2 linked regions of the Homo sapiens genome follow. The protein of the gene in region 1 interacts with the protein of each later gene in a pairwise test. Each region holds a gene or a part of one and is shown on either strand. Other genes may lie near its edges.

Region 1 (7,302 bases):
ACACAATGGAGATTAAAGTACAGGAGAGGCCGGTCGGTGGCTCATGCCTGTAATCCTAGCACTGTTGGAGGTTGAGGCATGATAGTACAGACCTGCAGTCCCAGCTACTCGGGAGGTTGAGGCAGGAGGATTGCTTGAGCCCAGGAGTTTCAGGATGCTGTGAGCTATGATAGTGCCACTGCACTCTAGCCTGGGTGACAGAGTGAGTCCTTGTCTCCAAAAATTGAGAAACTCAAAGATGTTCAATTGGTGATGGTACTACAATGTAAGGGGTGTTGGGAAAGATGACGAGTGTTTTCAACTTCTACAATGAAGAGTGTTAATGTAGCAGCATTTGAGATTGAGGGAGCAGGAGTGCTAACATCCTGTGGGCTCAAGACAGTGCTGCACAATTGTCCTTACTTTAAATGCCAATAACATCCCCCACTGATGATTAAATTAATCCTTATATCACTAAAGATTACAGAAATATGACATATGGTGGTATTATCTGGTCTCAAGGATCCAAATGGAATGCTGATGTCACATCCAGGTACTCACAGTGTCCTTGGCTTGTGGTAGCCCTGAGAGAAGTGGTATTTGCTTTGGATAGGAATGTGGTAGTTTAGACTAGATACAGCTGGAGGGAGGGAGTGCTCCCTATCAGTGGAATATTTTTATACAACAAATTAACACTCTCAAGTTTATTTCCAACATTCATTTTTTATATTCATTATAAACAGGGTGATATGGTTTGGCTATGTCCCCACCCAAATCTCATCTTGAATTATAGTTCCCATAATCCCCATGTGTTGTGGGAGGGACCTGGTAGGAGGTAATTGAATCATGGAGGCAGGTTTTTCCCATACTGTTCTTGAAGTAGTAAATAAGTCTCACAAGATCTGATAGTTTTATAAATGGGAATTCCCCTACACAAGCCCTCTCTTTCCTGCCACCATGTATGATGTGACTTTGCTCCTCATTTGCCTTCTGACATGATTGTGAGGCCTCCCCAGCCATGTTGAACTGTAAATAAATTAAACCTCCTTTATAAATTACCCAGTTTCAATTATGTCTTTATTAGCAGCATGAGAACAGACTAATACACAGGGTTAAACTACGGAGAATTGGCTTGCATTATAGACTGGCTGTCTATCACATTGAGCATCCTCAGAGGGAAAGATGTGTAGACAATGCTATGCAAACTTCTAAGTTTTTCTTAGAAACATTTCTAATGGAACTATTTCATACTGGAATCACAGATTAATCAGTGAATTTTTTGTGTGTGAAAAGGAACCTCAGAGACTACCTTGAACCCACTGTCATGCTTCTGAATACTTCAGTGTAGAAATACAAAGCGTGCTTCCGTTTTGGTCACTCATACCATGCAAGTAAATGAATAGCTGAATACCTTTGATTTTAAATGTAAATATGACCTTTAGAAATAACAGCTGGTTTAAAAATGAGCCAAAGTGTAAGTAAAATGGGCAACGGATATACTTCAGTTCCCAAAGAACATTTATAAGGAAAAGTTGTGTTTCCTTTGCAGCTTTCCGTCTTAGAGAAAAGACTTCATCATCTTATATGTGATGTGGCTTTCTGGGCTCCTGACATCTTTATAGAGTTTGACTGGAATTTCCTTCTCTTGAAAATGAATGGGCATTTTCTTGCTCTCCACACTCATAAGCTTCACTCCCAGGGGGCCCAAGTTTACATAATCCTATGGTGAACAGGCACAAAAAAGAATAGGAGAGGTGATTCAGCAAATTACCAGCTTGATAGATTAGGCTTTCTTTATTACAGTTGGCCTTTATCTGACAGACTTCATTGCCCCCTAATTGCCTGATGCTGTGTAGCACATGAAATATGAGAGCCACTATAAATGGGAAAAAAACAAAATACTCAGGAAACTTATATACCCAGTAGGGCATACACAGTAGGCAAGATCTTCCAAAAGCAGGCAGCAAGGCTGGAAGGCTTGTCTCATAGTGGGTTAATGGGGGAGGGATGCTGGCTATAGTTAGTGCAAAACTAACTATAGTCTGTGAAAGGAAAATAAAAACATGGGACCCCAATTCACTTTGCCAAAAGGAAAAAATTAAGCTGAAAGCTGAGTCATGTAAGCAACTGCCTTTGCTTTTGTTCCTAAGCAGATATGTACAGATAAAAGGTTAAATATCCCCACAGGTAGCTACTCTATGTTCAGCTGATCTTTTGTAAAGTGCGAGGTGAATACATAATTGACTGTTCCCCTACCTGCTCCTTTTCTCTTGCAACATGTGGATGACCATACCTTCCTGCTTTCCCCTCCAGCCCACTTTTCTCCTTTAAATATTGAAGGCCTCCAAGTCATCTTTGGAGACAGGCACAGACCACACACTATTTCTGTGATTTTGTGGGTTTTTTTTCTCCCAGGTACTGTCCTTAACATTGGCAAAATCAACTTCTAAATTGATTGAGACCTGTCTCAGATAGCTTTTGGTTTACAAATCTAAGATATCAACAAACAGAATTTGAAGTCTAACTGATATGAAATCCATAGCCAACCCAAAACTGGGTGGACAGAGCTCACGCCCTACCCAATGTCCCTTCCTCCAGGAAGTCTCCCATGCCATAACTCTTGCTTTTTAATTCCTTTGACACGTCACTTTAGCAAACCTTTCCCAAGTGTTCACTGTATGCCAGGCCCTATATCAAGTGCTGGGGTGCAATGATAAGCACAGACTGATCAGGGACACAGGTACAGGTGGTCTGTTTACTCTTATATGGTACTTGTTGATTTTCTTACCTGTCTTCTACAAGTCTGTAAGTGATTTGGGGGCAAGGCCTGCTGTATAGGCATATTTGAGATTTCATTTCTTGCTGTTCTCTCCCTTAAATGCACAAGCATTTAACAAGGACCTGGCATGTTGTGGGGTTCTCAATAAATATTTATTTGAATTTAGAAGAATCAAAGAATGAAAAAGGAAGGTGATGTCTTATTTCTCAAAATACATATAATTCTATTTAGCTTTCAAAATATGTAGCTGTGATAAATGTAAGATAGTAGAAAAGCAAGTTGATGGAGACCTACCACATATTTCAGAATCACTGGGAGGAGGATTCTCAAGTAATACACCATGGCCATGGCAGTTTGACTACATCAAAAACTTTCATGGAAAGTAAGTCTTTCATTCAACCAAATGGTATGCTATTTGGGGATTTTGTAGACAACTGTCCACTAGCCTGAGATCATCATGACATCCCAGGAGTCATGATTCCAAGATACGCATGGAGATGTTTCAGTGCTAGAGGAACTAGAACTTTAGTCTTTAAATCATCGCTTGATGGCAGCAGGATTGAATTGTAGTTAGTTAAAATGGTTTGTGTTGGTTTATTCAGTTTCTTCTGCTTTCTTACATCATTTTTTCCACTACCAGACATCAAATTCTAGGAGAACTTTTAAAGTATCAAGAGGGAAAATAACAAGGGATGGCTGTGGGAGTAACTGGAATGTACTAGAAAGAAGTTTCAAAATTAAAAGGCTTAATACTCCAGGTTTTAATGAATGGTATATGTGCAATCTGTACTTTCCAAAGATAGCCTAATTCATATCCTATCCCAAGTGCTTCTCTTACAATGTGATACTGACCTTCCTCCATCAAGATGTAGGAGCTATGTTCCTTCCCCTTGGATGGAACTTTGTAACTACATCAACCAGTAGAATATGATGGAAGTGACAATGTATGATTTCCAAGGCTAAGCCATATAAAACTGCCTTCTTTCTTTTCTTTCTTTCTTTCCTTCCTTCTTTCCTTCCTTCCTTCCTTCCTTTCCTCCTTCCCTCTTTCTTTCTTTTCTTTCTTTCTTTCTTTCTTTCCTTCTTTCTTTCTTTCTCTTTCTTTCTTTCTTTCTTTCTTTCTCTCTCTCTCTCTCTCTCTCTCTCTCTCTCTCTTTCTTTTTCTTTTTTCTTTCTTTCTTTTCAGAGTCTCGCTCTGTCACCCAGGCTGGAGTGCAATGATACAGTCTCTGCTCACTGCAACCTCTGCTTCCCAGGTTCAGGCAATTCTCCTGCCTCAGCCTGTCAACTAGCTGGGATTACAGGCACGCACCACCATGCCCAGCTATTTTTGGTATATTTAGTAGAGATAGGGTTTCACCGTGTTGGCCAGGCTGGTCTCAAATTTCCGATCTCAGGTGATCCGCCCACCTCAGCTTCCCAAAGTGCTGGGGTTACAGGCATGAGCCACTGCAGCCAAATTGCTGCTTTTATCTTGGTCTCTAGGGTTGCTTGTTTTGGGAGAAGACAGACACTATAACAAAAGAAATTCAAAACACCCTGTCAGGAGGCACATGTGAAGAAGAAGTGAGGCCCTCAGTTTAGCCAGCATCAACATGCTAGCCATATAAACCACCTTGGAAATGAAGACTCCTGCCCCGATCAAGCCTTCAGATGAGTGCAGCCCTAGCCAACATATGGTTGCAACTGACTGAGAGTCCACCAAGTGAGAACTGTCTAGTGGAGCCCTTCCTGAATTTCTAACCAACAGAGCCCTAAGCGAGAATAAATAGTTATTGTTATAAGCCACTAGGTTTTGGGGATTGTTATGTAGCATTAGATAACTTACTTTGTATACTATTAATGGAGGCCTATAGAGGAATATAGGTAGCAAATTGGGCAAGAGTAGGAGTGAAAATGGTATCCAAATGAGAGATGTGAATGGTGGGCCAATTTTACTAATAATTGCAAATGGAATTTTCAATATCCATATTTTAGGTTAATTTTCTCAATTAAAACAGCATTTCTCAAAACAGCATTTTCTTAGTAGTCAAAGTTGTGTTGTTATGAATCTTACCTTGAAATCCTTCTCATCCTCATATAGTAAGTACTTCATATCAGTGTCCCCAAACTCTGTGCCTGAGTTTTCCTCTTTATCTATCTTCACATACTGGAGATCTTCGATGCTATTTTCATGACTAAGATGTAAGATAGTGCTCTCATCTGATGAGGACATCAAGTCTCTACTTTCTACTTCTGTGGGTTGCAATTCTGACTTCTCTTCTTGGATAAATACAAAGGAATTAATTATGTATACATTTTGAACATATACAAATAAAAATGCAATACATACTTTGTCACATTTTTAATTGGATGGAACTTTGAGAATTGCAAATGTAGAATTTATGTATTAAAGTAAGAGGGAGTCCCATTTGTAGAAACTCTAAGTTGTATTTCTTTCTGTTAGCTAATAAGTTATAGTAATTATATTGGTGCCTAAGTATATGTTGTCATTTTGGTTGGCTAAATAGGGCCCTAAACCTTGCCAGTGTAGACAGCAGTCTCATCCCTCTTCACCAGTATTTATTTAATTTACTGTGAAACATGGTGACCTTAATTTGAAAGTGGGACTACAGACAGGAGATAGATTAGGACAAGCACTGCAAGAGGAGAAATTTAGAGAAGCTGGCAGGTGTCTATTCTCTGAATAGCTTTTGTATGTGGGGCACCTGCTCACAATAGGTAAGTGTTTTTTAAATTGAAAAACAAGAGTTTGAAAAAAATCATCATCATTATTGCAATAAAGTAATACCTATATGTGTTTCTGGCAATTCCAAAGACATTTCTTCAGGTGGCACTTCTAGTCCAGCAGCTTGGGTAAGATATAGTCGCCTAAAAGAACAAATGAGAAAAACAATCTGTCAGTCAATAAATATTGCATTGCATGCTTACTAGGGTCTATCTCTCTACTAGGTGCTAGAAATGCATAGATGAAAAATGAGACATAATTTCTACCCTGAGGAGCATAAAGCCCAGTGGGGTGGCAGACAGCCTTACGGTATTTTAAAGTCATGGTGTGTACCATGATGGGTAATTACCATAGTGTGAGAATAATGGGATGCAGAAAGAAGCAGCACCTGAGTCAGCTTTAGGGGGAAGGAAAGTTTTCCTGGATGAAACCTGATCTTAGTCTTTGATACAGTTTAGCTGGGCCCCACCCAAATCCCATCTTGAACTGTAGTTCCCATAATCCCCATATGTTGTGGGAGAGGGACCCAGTGGGAAGTAATTGAATTATGGGAGCGGTTACCTCCATGCTGTTCTCGTGTTAGTGAGTTCCCATGAGATCTGATAATTTATAAGGGGCTTTTCTCCAACCTTCGCTCTGCACTTCTTCCTGCTGCCATGTGAAGAAGGTCATGTTTGCTTCCCCTTCTGCCATGAATCTAAGTTTCCTGAGTCCTCCCCAGCCTGGTGGAACTGTGAGTCACTTAAACCTCTTTCTTTTCTAAATTACCCAGTCTCGGGCAGTTTTTTATAGCAGCATGAGAATGGACTAATACAGTCTTGAACCTGGAGGTGGTTGCCAGGGAAGAGCTAGGGGTGAAAGAAGGGCATTCCAAATAAGGAAATAACACACTTAAAGTTCAAAAAATTGAGAGTGAGCATGGCACTAGTCAGGTCGCTGTTGTAGTATTTCAGGTGCGGAATGATAGTGTCCTGAAAGACCACTTTTGAGTGGTTTTCGTTTTGAGATGAAGAGAGAAAGAGAAAGCGAACAGTAGGAATCCAAGATACCATCTAGGTCCTGGCTTTTGCTTAGTGGTATGCTTCACCTACAAGCCCAGCGAACTGATGTCCATATGCTGTTGTAGCTCTCTCTACATTGTTTAATTCTGTGCTCTCCTTTTTAGAGTGTCCACTGAATTTTCAATCAGAAAATATCATGCTTTGAAAACTCTGTATGGCATTTCCATGAGGTTTACCTGAAGACAGCATGAAGTAATTGAACGCTTGCAAATGTGCAAACAACCCTTCACGCTTAGCAGCTAAGCAAGTAAAGTGAATCCCCTAAATTAGGGGCTGTGAGTTATTTAAAGAACATGAATAAAGTGTTATCCAGATGCTAATGGCTCCAGCAAATACTGTAACTACATACAATATTTACACCTATGAAAACTTCTAAAAACTTAACTTTAGTTAAGGTAAGTTTAGTAAAGGTACCTTAGTAAACGTAAGTTTCACATGTAGCTGTGGTCTTCAGGGAGACATGTCTGAGGCTATAGAATTCTTTTGTTTCCTAGTTTTACCATTGTGAACAATTAAGATCTTTCTAAATGCCATAACCTTCAGGAATCTAGCTTTTTCTATTAATTGCTAGTTTACTGTTACTTCTGTACTACTACAGGGTAACAACACTTGATACTTAATGATATGGAAAATAGTTTAAAAGATGTTATTATGGTAAGTTAGTGTTAGATTTGTAGGTGTTGGCCCACTTAGCCTCAGCCCTGTGGCACTGGAGTCCTGGGCAGTCACCTCTGGCTGACAGTTTCCTCATCTGT
Region 2 (7,640 bases), on another chromosome or scaffold:
GAACTCGTCAAGTTTGCTGGCCCTGGGCAAAACCAGCCCATCCCCGGACAGCTCCTCTCCTGCCTCTGTGTCTGCGAAGGACTCGGGGGGAAATATCTAAAATAGAATAGAAATAGGCTGTGGGTCAAACAATAATTTCAAAGGTATTCAAATCATAACTTAATTTCGCTTTGAATAAGCTTCTGTATATTAGGGACTGGGGAGAATTTGGGGTCTGCCAGATGCACTGGCTCACACCTGTAATCCCAACACTTTGGGAGGAATTTTTAAAAATAAGGTGTGTTTCTTGGTCTAAAGAAATTTCACAACTTGGTCTATGAAGTGCGCTTGGTTGAAGGGATGGAGAGGGAAGTGAAGAGCTGAAGTTGGTTCCCTATGCCATACAGTGCAGTAAGCTTTTACAGAGTACCTCACCTACACCAGGCTTTCTGACCCCTGCACTCCAGGAATCCTGCCCATGATGATGGCCACACTCTCCCTTACTTGGGTTTTAACCTACTTCTTGCTCATCTTCCTTCTCTCCCTTCCCTTATTTCTACTCCTCTGCTTTCCTCATGTTCTAGCTAATTTGCACTCTGTCAAGGAATGGATGATGGCTGGGTGCAGTGGCTCATGCCTGTAATCCCAGCATTTTGGGAGGCCGAGGGAGGTGGATCACCTGAGGTCAGGAGTTCAAGACCAGCTTGACCAACATGGTGAAATCCCGTCTCTACAAAAATACAAAAATTAGTTGGGCGTGGTGGCGGGTGCCTGTAATCTCAGCTACTGGGGAGGCTGAGGCAGGAGAATCGCTTGAACCCGGGAGGCGGAGGTGGCAGTGAGATGAGATTGCGCCACTGCACTCCAGCCTGGGCAACAAGAGTGATGCTCCGTCTCAAAAAAAAAAAAAAAAAAAGGAATGGATGATTAACAAGACAGACAGTATGGTCTGGCTGGAAGAGCAATGTCTTAAGAAGTGGGACACACAATTAACTTTTTCAGTACTCCATTCATTCATAAAATATTTACTGGGTGCCTGATGTGCACTGGGCATTTGGCTGAGAACAAGACAAACAAGGTCCTTACTCTCATGAAGCTTACACTGTAGTAAGAGGAGACAGACAATATAAGATGATGATAAATTCTGTGAAAACCATAAACAACTGTGAGGTTATAAAAAGATGGAGTGCCTATGGAAAGCTTTTTGGTTGATAAAGTCCATCAGATTAAGGTTATTAGGAATGTACTTGTAATCAGTACATCAGTTAGGCTTATTAACTTGCTGCAGGACACTACGGAAAACCACAGGGAACTTAGGGTTGAGGGTGTGATTTTTATAGGGTTGGCTTCCCTGATTGATTCAGGGAACCAGGTATCAACTCTGGAATGGTGCTGTCATGAAGTGGGGACAATTTAGTTAAGCGAATGACTGAGCAATTTTTTTTTTTTGAGACAGGTTCTTGCTCTGTCACCCAGGTTCTGGAGTGCAGTGGTGCAATCATGCCTCACTGCAGCCTGAACCTCCTGAGCTCAGGTGATGATCCTCCCACCTCAGCCTCCCGAGTAGCTGGGACTACAGCACACACCATCACACCTGGCTAGTTTTTGTATTTTTTGTACAGATGGGGTTTCACCATGCTTCCCAGGCTGGTCTCCAACTCCTGAGCTCAAATGATCCGCCTGCCTTGGCCTCCCAAAGTGCTGGGATTACAGGCGTGAGCCATTGGGCCCCGCCCAACGGCAATACTTATTCAAAAGGTGAGAAGAATAAAGTAGGGTGGGTAAGTAATTGATCAGTAAGCCTTTTGGAAGAAGGGGTGTTAGTAATTTTGCACCTATGTTATGGCCCTGAGAGAAACACTGTTTCCTGATGCTCTTGCCGTTGGCATTATCTATGCCTATGACAGTCTGAGTTATACTTTCTCAGTCCTGGGCTGATTTTTATTTTTCATTGTGGAGGAATTTTGAATTGACACTTGATTGATGAGGAGCCAGGCTTACTAAAATCCAGGGTAAGAGTCAGAGATATGTATGCACCCTAGCCCTGGCTCTGCTACAGTGTGTGATCTTGGGCACGTTTTTTCTTTTCTTTTAAAGACAACTTTATTAAGACATAATTTCTATACAATATATTCACTCATTTAAAGTGTACAATTCAGTGGTTTTAGTATATACACAGAGTTGTGCAACTACCATCACAATTTTAGAACACCTTCATCGCCCTTAAAAGAAATGCCACACGCTTTAGTGGTCACTCCCTATTTCCCCTAACCCTCCACACCCCACCCCACCAGCCCTAAGCAACTGCCAATCTACTTTTTGCCTTTAATAGTTTGGGGTCCACCAGGTGCACTGGCTCACGCCTGTAATCCCAGCACTTTGGGAGGCCTTGGCTGGTGGATCACTGGAGGCACGCGCCACCACACCTGGCTAATTTTTTTTTTTTTTTGAGACGGAGTCTCGCTCTGTCGCCAGGCTAGAGTGCAGTGGTGCAATCTTGGCTCACTGCAACCTCCACCTCCCGGGTTCAAGTGATTCTCCTGCCTCAGCCTCCCGAGTAGCTAGGACTACAGGCGCGCACCACCATGCCCAGATAATTTTTTGTATTTTTTTGTTTGTTTGTTTTTGTTTTTGAGAGAGTTTTGCTCTTGTTGCCCAGGCTGGAGTGCAATGGCACAATCTCGGCTCACTGCAACCTCCACCTCCCAGGTTCAAGCAATTCTCTTGCCTCAGCCTCCCGAGTAGCTGGGATTACAGGCATGTGCCACCACGTCCAGCTAATTTTGTATTTTTTTTAGTAGAGACAGGGTTTCTCCATGTTGGTCAGGCTGGTCTTGAACTCCTGACCTCAGGTCCCAAAGTGCTGCATTACAGGAGTAAGCCACCGCACCCGGCCAATTTTTGTATTTTTAGTAGAGACGGGGTTTTGCCATGGAAACCAGCCTGGTCTCGATCTCTTGACCTCATGATCCGCTTTCCTTGGCCTCCCAAAGTGCTGGGATTACAGGCGTGAGCCAGCGCGCCTGGCCAATTTTTTTTTTTTTTTTAAATTTTTAGACGGAGTTTCACCATGTTGGCCAGGCTGGTCTCGAACTCCTGACCTCAGGTGATCCACCCGCCTCGGCCTCCCAAAGTGCTAGGATTACAGGCGTGAACCACCACGCCCGGCCAAATTTGGGGAGCAATTTTCTTAATCTCTTTGTGCCTCAGTTTTCTCTTCTACAAAAATGAGACGACAATTGTACTACTGGTCATAGAGTACTAAGAGGATAAGCGAAAACTGAGTGACATTGCCTATCAAGAGCCTCGTATAAAGTCCGAGAGGTTCAGGTCTGTAAGTCAGAGTCCGCCTCCTGGTCCCTAAACGCTCATTTTAATCCCACGCCCCTCCGTGACACGCCCCTGCTGTCTGTCTCCAAGGCAACGCCCAACAGTTTCCTCTCCGGGATTCCTTTCCCGGGGGCAGTCTCTTTTCTCTCCTCACCTGACGGCTCCCCTCCGCGCCTCCGGGGGCTCCCTCAGGCCTCCCCACGGTCATTTCAGCTGGACAGAGGCAGCAGCGACAGTGACAGCGATAGTGGCAGCAGCGGTGGCAGCGAGAGCTATGCGGGGCCAGGGTCCACCCCTTTCTAGCTTTGGCGTCTGGTTGGCTTCCAGGGCAGCCTCCGATCCATCCCGCCCGAGGAGGCAAGGTTCGTTTTCCGATTGGCCTATTTTCTCCGCGCATTTTATTTCCGGTTCTGAGGACGCCGCGGAAGCGGGACGGGATTGGAGTGCTCTGCTCCGGACGCACTACGTAGGTGGGCCTGCGGGAGTTCTGAGTGCGACGGCGCAGGTCTGCACCATGGCGGCCCGGCTTGTCAGCCGATGCGGGGCTGTGCGTGCAGCTCCCCACAGCGGCCCGCTGGTGTCCTGGCGCAGGTGGTCCGGCGCCTCAACAGACACCGTGTATGACGTGGTGGTGTCGGGTGGAGGCCTGGTGGGCGCTGCCATGGCCTGTGCCTTGGGTAAGCCCTTCTCCAGGCTACTAGTGGCCGGAAACCGGGCCGCGGAGGCACGATGAGAGCCGTGAGAGCCCTAGCACGACTTGCCCAAAGACAATTTCTCAGGTCTCGCGACGCTTCTCCCCTCCCCTCCTAGAGGAACCCCAGGGCACGCCGGAATGCGTGTGGTCCTTCAGGGTCCATTAGGGTCAAAAGTGGGAGGGGCGTTCAGAGTCTGTTCTACTCATGGGAAAACAGGCCTTCCCGGGGTTATTTATAAATGAGAGTTCCAGTTTCTCCAGATCCTGGACAGTACTTGTCATTGTCTTTTTGTTTATAGACATTCTAGTGGGTGTAAGTAAAGTGGGATCTCCAGGTTTTGACTTGTATTTCCCTAATGATTAATGATGTTGAATATCCTTTCATATGTTTATTGGTCATTTGTATATCTTCTTTAGAGAAATGCCTATTCAGACCCTTTGCCCGGTTTTTAATTGAGCAGTTTGTCTCTTGAATACTGTGGTAAGAGTTATTTTTATTTTTTGAGACAGGGTCTTCCGCTGTGCCCAGGCTGCAGTGCAGTGGCACGATCACGGCTCACTGTAGCCTCAACCTCCCTGGCTGAATTGATCCTCCTGCCTCTGCCTCCCAAATAGCTGGGACTGCAGGAATGCGCCACCACTCGGCTGATTTTTGTATTTTTTTGTAGAGACGAGGTCTCACTATGTTGCCCAGGCTGGTCTGGAACTTCTGGGCTCAAGCAATCCACCTGCCTCAGCCTCCCAAAGTGCTGGGATTACCGGCATAAGCAACCCTGCCTGGCCATTATTTTGTTTATTCTGTATAAGTCCCTTATCTGATAAATGACTTGCAAATATTTTCTTCCATTTTGTAGTCTTTTCACTTTTTTTTTTTTCCCTGAGATGGAGTTTCGCTCTTGTTGCCCAGGATGGAGTACAATGGCACGATCTCAGCTCACTGCAACCTCTGGGATTACAGGCTTGTGCCACCATGCCTGGCTAATTTTTGTATTTTTAGTAGAGACGGGGTTTCACCATATTGGCCAGGCTGGTCTCGAACTCCTGATCTCGTGATCCACCTGCCCCTTCCTCCCAAAGTGCTGGGATTACAGGCATGAATCACCATGCTTGGCCCATTATGAGATTTTTTTTTTGTGATTTTTTTTTTTTTTTTAGCTCATCAGCTATCATTAATATTAGTGTTTTTTTATATGTGACCCAAGACAATTCTTCCACTGTGGCCTGGGGAAGCCAAAAGATTGGACACCCTGATCTAAGGGCAGCTGTTCCACCCTATGATCCTCATCTCACAAGATACACAAAATTTAACTTAAAGCAGATCATAGACTTCTGTAACAGGGTGGTTCTCATGGCTGCTTGGGAGGCTGAGGCAGGAGAATCGCTTGAAACTGGAAGGGGGAGGTTGCAGTGAGCTGAGATCGCGCCACTGCACTCCAGCCTGGGCAACAAGAGCGAAACTCGATATCTCAAAAAAAAAAAAAAAAAAAAAAGAAGATAGTGCCCTTTACAGAGCATGCTCTACAGAGCATGTCCCTGTGCCCCATCCTCCACAGCAAAAGCTGCCAAGATGGACCGCTCACTGTCTGTATGGCTGGAGCTAACTTTTTTTTTTTTTTTTTTTTTTTTTGAGACAGAGTCTCTGCTCTGTCACCCAGGCTGGAGTGCAGTGGCAGGATCCCAGCTCACTGCAACCTCTGCCTCCCAGGTTCCAGTGATTCTCCTGCCTCAGCCTTCTGAGGAGCTGGGACCACAGGCGCCCGCCATCACACCTGGCTAATTTTTGTGTTTTTAGTAGAGATGGGGTTTCACCATGTTGCCCACGCTGGTCTTGAACTCCTGAGCTCAACTGATCCATCACCTCAGTCTCCCAAAGTGCTGGGATTATAGGTGTGACCCACTGTGCCTGACCTTTCTTTCTTTTCTTTTCTTTTTTGTAGTTTTTGAGACAGGGTTTTGCTCTGTCCCCCAGGTAGGACTGCAGTTGCACAAACATAGCTCAGGTGTGCCACCATGCCTGGCTAGTTAAAAAAAATTTTTTTTTGTAGAGACAGGGTCTCGCCATGTTGCCCAGGCTGGTCTTGAATTCCTAGGCTTGAGCAATCCTCCCACCTCGGCCTCCCAAAATGCTGAGATTACAGGCGTTAGCCACCATGCCTGGCTCACGTTTTCTTTTATAAACTCTAATTCTTTCTTTTTGAGACAGAATTTTGCTCTTGTTGCCCTGGCTGGAGTGCAGTGGTGCAATCTCCTCCTCCCAGGATCAAGCGATTCTCCTGCCTCAGCCTCCCAAGTAGCTGGGATTACAGGTGCCCGCCATCACACCTGGCTAATTTTTTTGTATTTTTAGTAGAGACGGGTTTCACCATGTTGGCTAGGCTGGTCTTGAACTCCTGACCTCAGGTGATCTGTCCACCTCGGCCTTCAAAGTGCTGGGATTACAGGTGTGAGCCACCGCACCGGCCTTTATAAACTCTAATTCTTTATTCTTGGTTTAATCTTGAGACTGCATTGAATTTTGCTTGTTTATTCCACTTTTTCTTTTGAACAGGAGTTGTAATTTTTAGTGACTTAATACTCTGGAGATTGAAAAGAACTGGTGTTTAAATACTGTAGTCTAACTTTTTTACTTCATTTTTCCTTTCTAGGGCATTCTGTTTGCTAGTTAGGTGTTTGCCATTATTTGCTTCTTGGCACGTGGCATGTAGTGGTCTTTGGAGAAGTCTTACAGTTGTGGGCAGGGTGGTTCTCATAGCTAAAATGGTGGTATATGTTATTGCTTAGGACTCTGCATGGGTATAGTGTTTATGTTCTCTGTAAGAAATTCATATTCTAAGGGTTAAGTGGTTACTCTGTTGTTTCTCTTGGTAATGGGAAAGGAAATTCTTGATTTTCCTAAGATGATATAAATTTTCTTTTTTTAAGGATATGATATTCACTTTCATGACAAGAAAATCCTGTTGCTCGAAGCAGGTCCAAAGAAAGTACTGGAGAAATTGTCAGAAACTTACAGCAACAGGGTCAGCTCCATTTCCCCTGGCTCTGCAACGCTTCTCAGTAGTGAGTAGAAGATCCTCCTTCAAAGATCCAATCTCCTTTCCCACTTAGCTTTCTAGTGTATCCCATGGGGCAGAGTCATCAGAGCATCTGACAAGGAGGGAGCTCACTGAGGTGGGTGGAGAGAGGGGGTGGGATTGGTAGTCTAGGGCAGAGTTGAAGATGTGGACCCCTGCAGTTGCTACTGCCTCAACTCCCTGTCTGAGGAATGCATCCTTGAGGCATGTGGGTCCATCATGTTGACTTCACTTGTGATGTTGTGTCATTATGAATTGGTGGAACTGAAATCATATGAACTAATCATGAACATTCACTTTGAATAGCAGGGCTCTCTTCATCCTGAGTCAAGCCTTCTAGCAAGCTAGGGAGCTTACACGTGAAATTCCCTTGGGGTGCAGATGAATAATGTGTGCACATGGAACCAGTTAGCAAATTGTCATTAGGTCTGCTAGATGTTTCCCTCAGACCATCCTGTCTGAAACCACCCCATCTCAAATTGAACTCTTCCATCACTTTCTAGCCCCTTTCCCTGCTCTATTTTTCTTCATAATGCTTACTACTACCTGGCATTATATTATGTGTT

What was found. The genes of interacting proteins can lie anywhere in the genome.
Region 2: the proteins of CCDC83 (region 1) and FAM161B interact in binary tests that used the Homo sapiens proteins (3 or more experiments, as listed by UniProt).

Annotation. Positions count from the first base shown.
Region 1 is NC_000011.10:85,913,746-85,921,047, reverse strand, and holds the end of CCDC83 (coiled-coil domain-containing protein 83), read right to left. Parts: intron 5,630-7,302; coding exon 5,550-5,629; intron 5,021-5,549; coding exon 4,815-5,020; intron 1,700-4,814; coding exon 1,538-1,699; 3' UTR 1,035-1,537; downstream 1-1,034.
Region 2 is NC_000014.9:73,946,510-73,954,149, forward strand, and holds the start of FAM161B (protein FAM161B), read right to left. Parts: upstream 3,584-7,640; 5' UTR 3,518-3,583; coding exon 3,464-3,517; exon of another isoform or gene 3,409-3,463; intron 97-3,408; coding exon 1-96. Other genes in the region: COQ6 (ubiquinone biosynthesis monooxygenase COQ6, mitochondrial), read left to right, coding at 3,824-3,986, 6,926-7,060.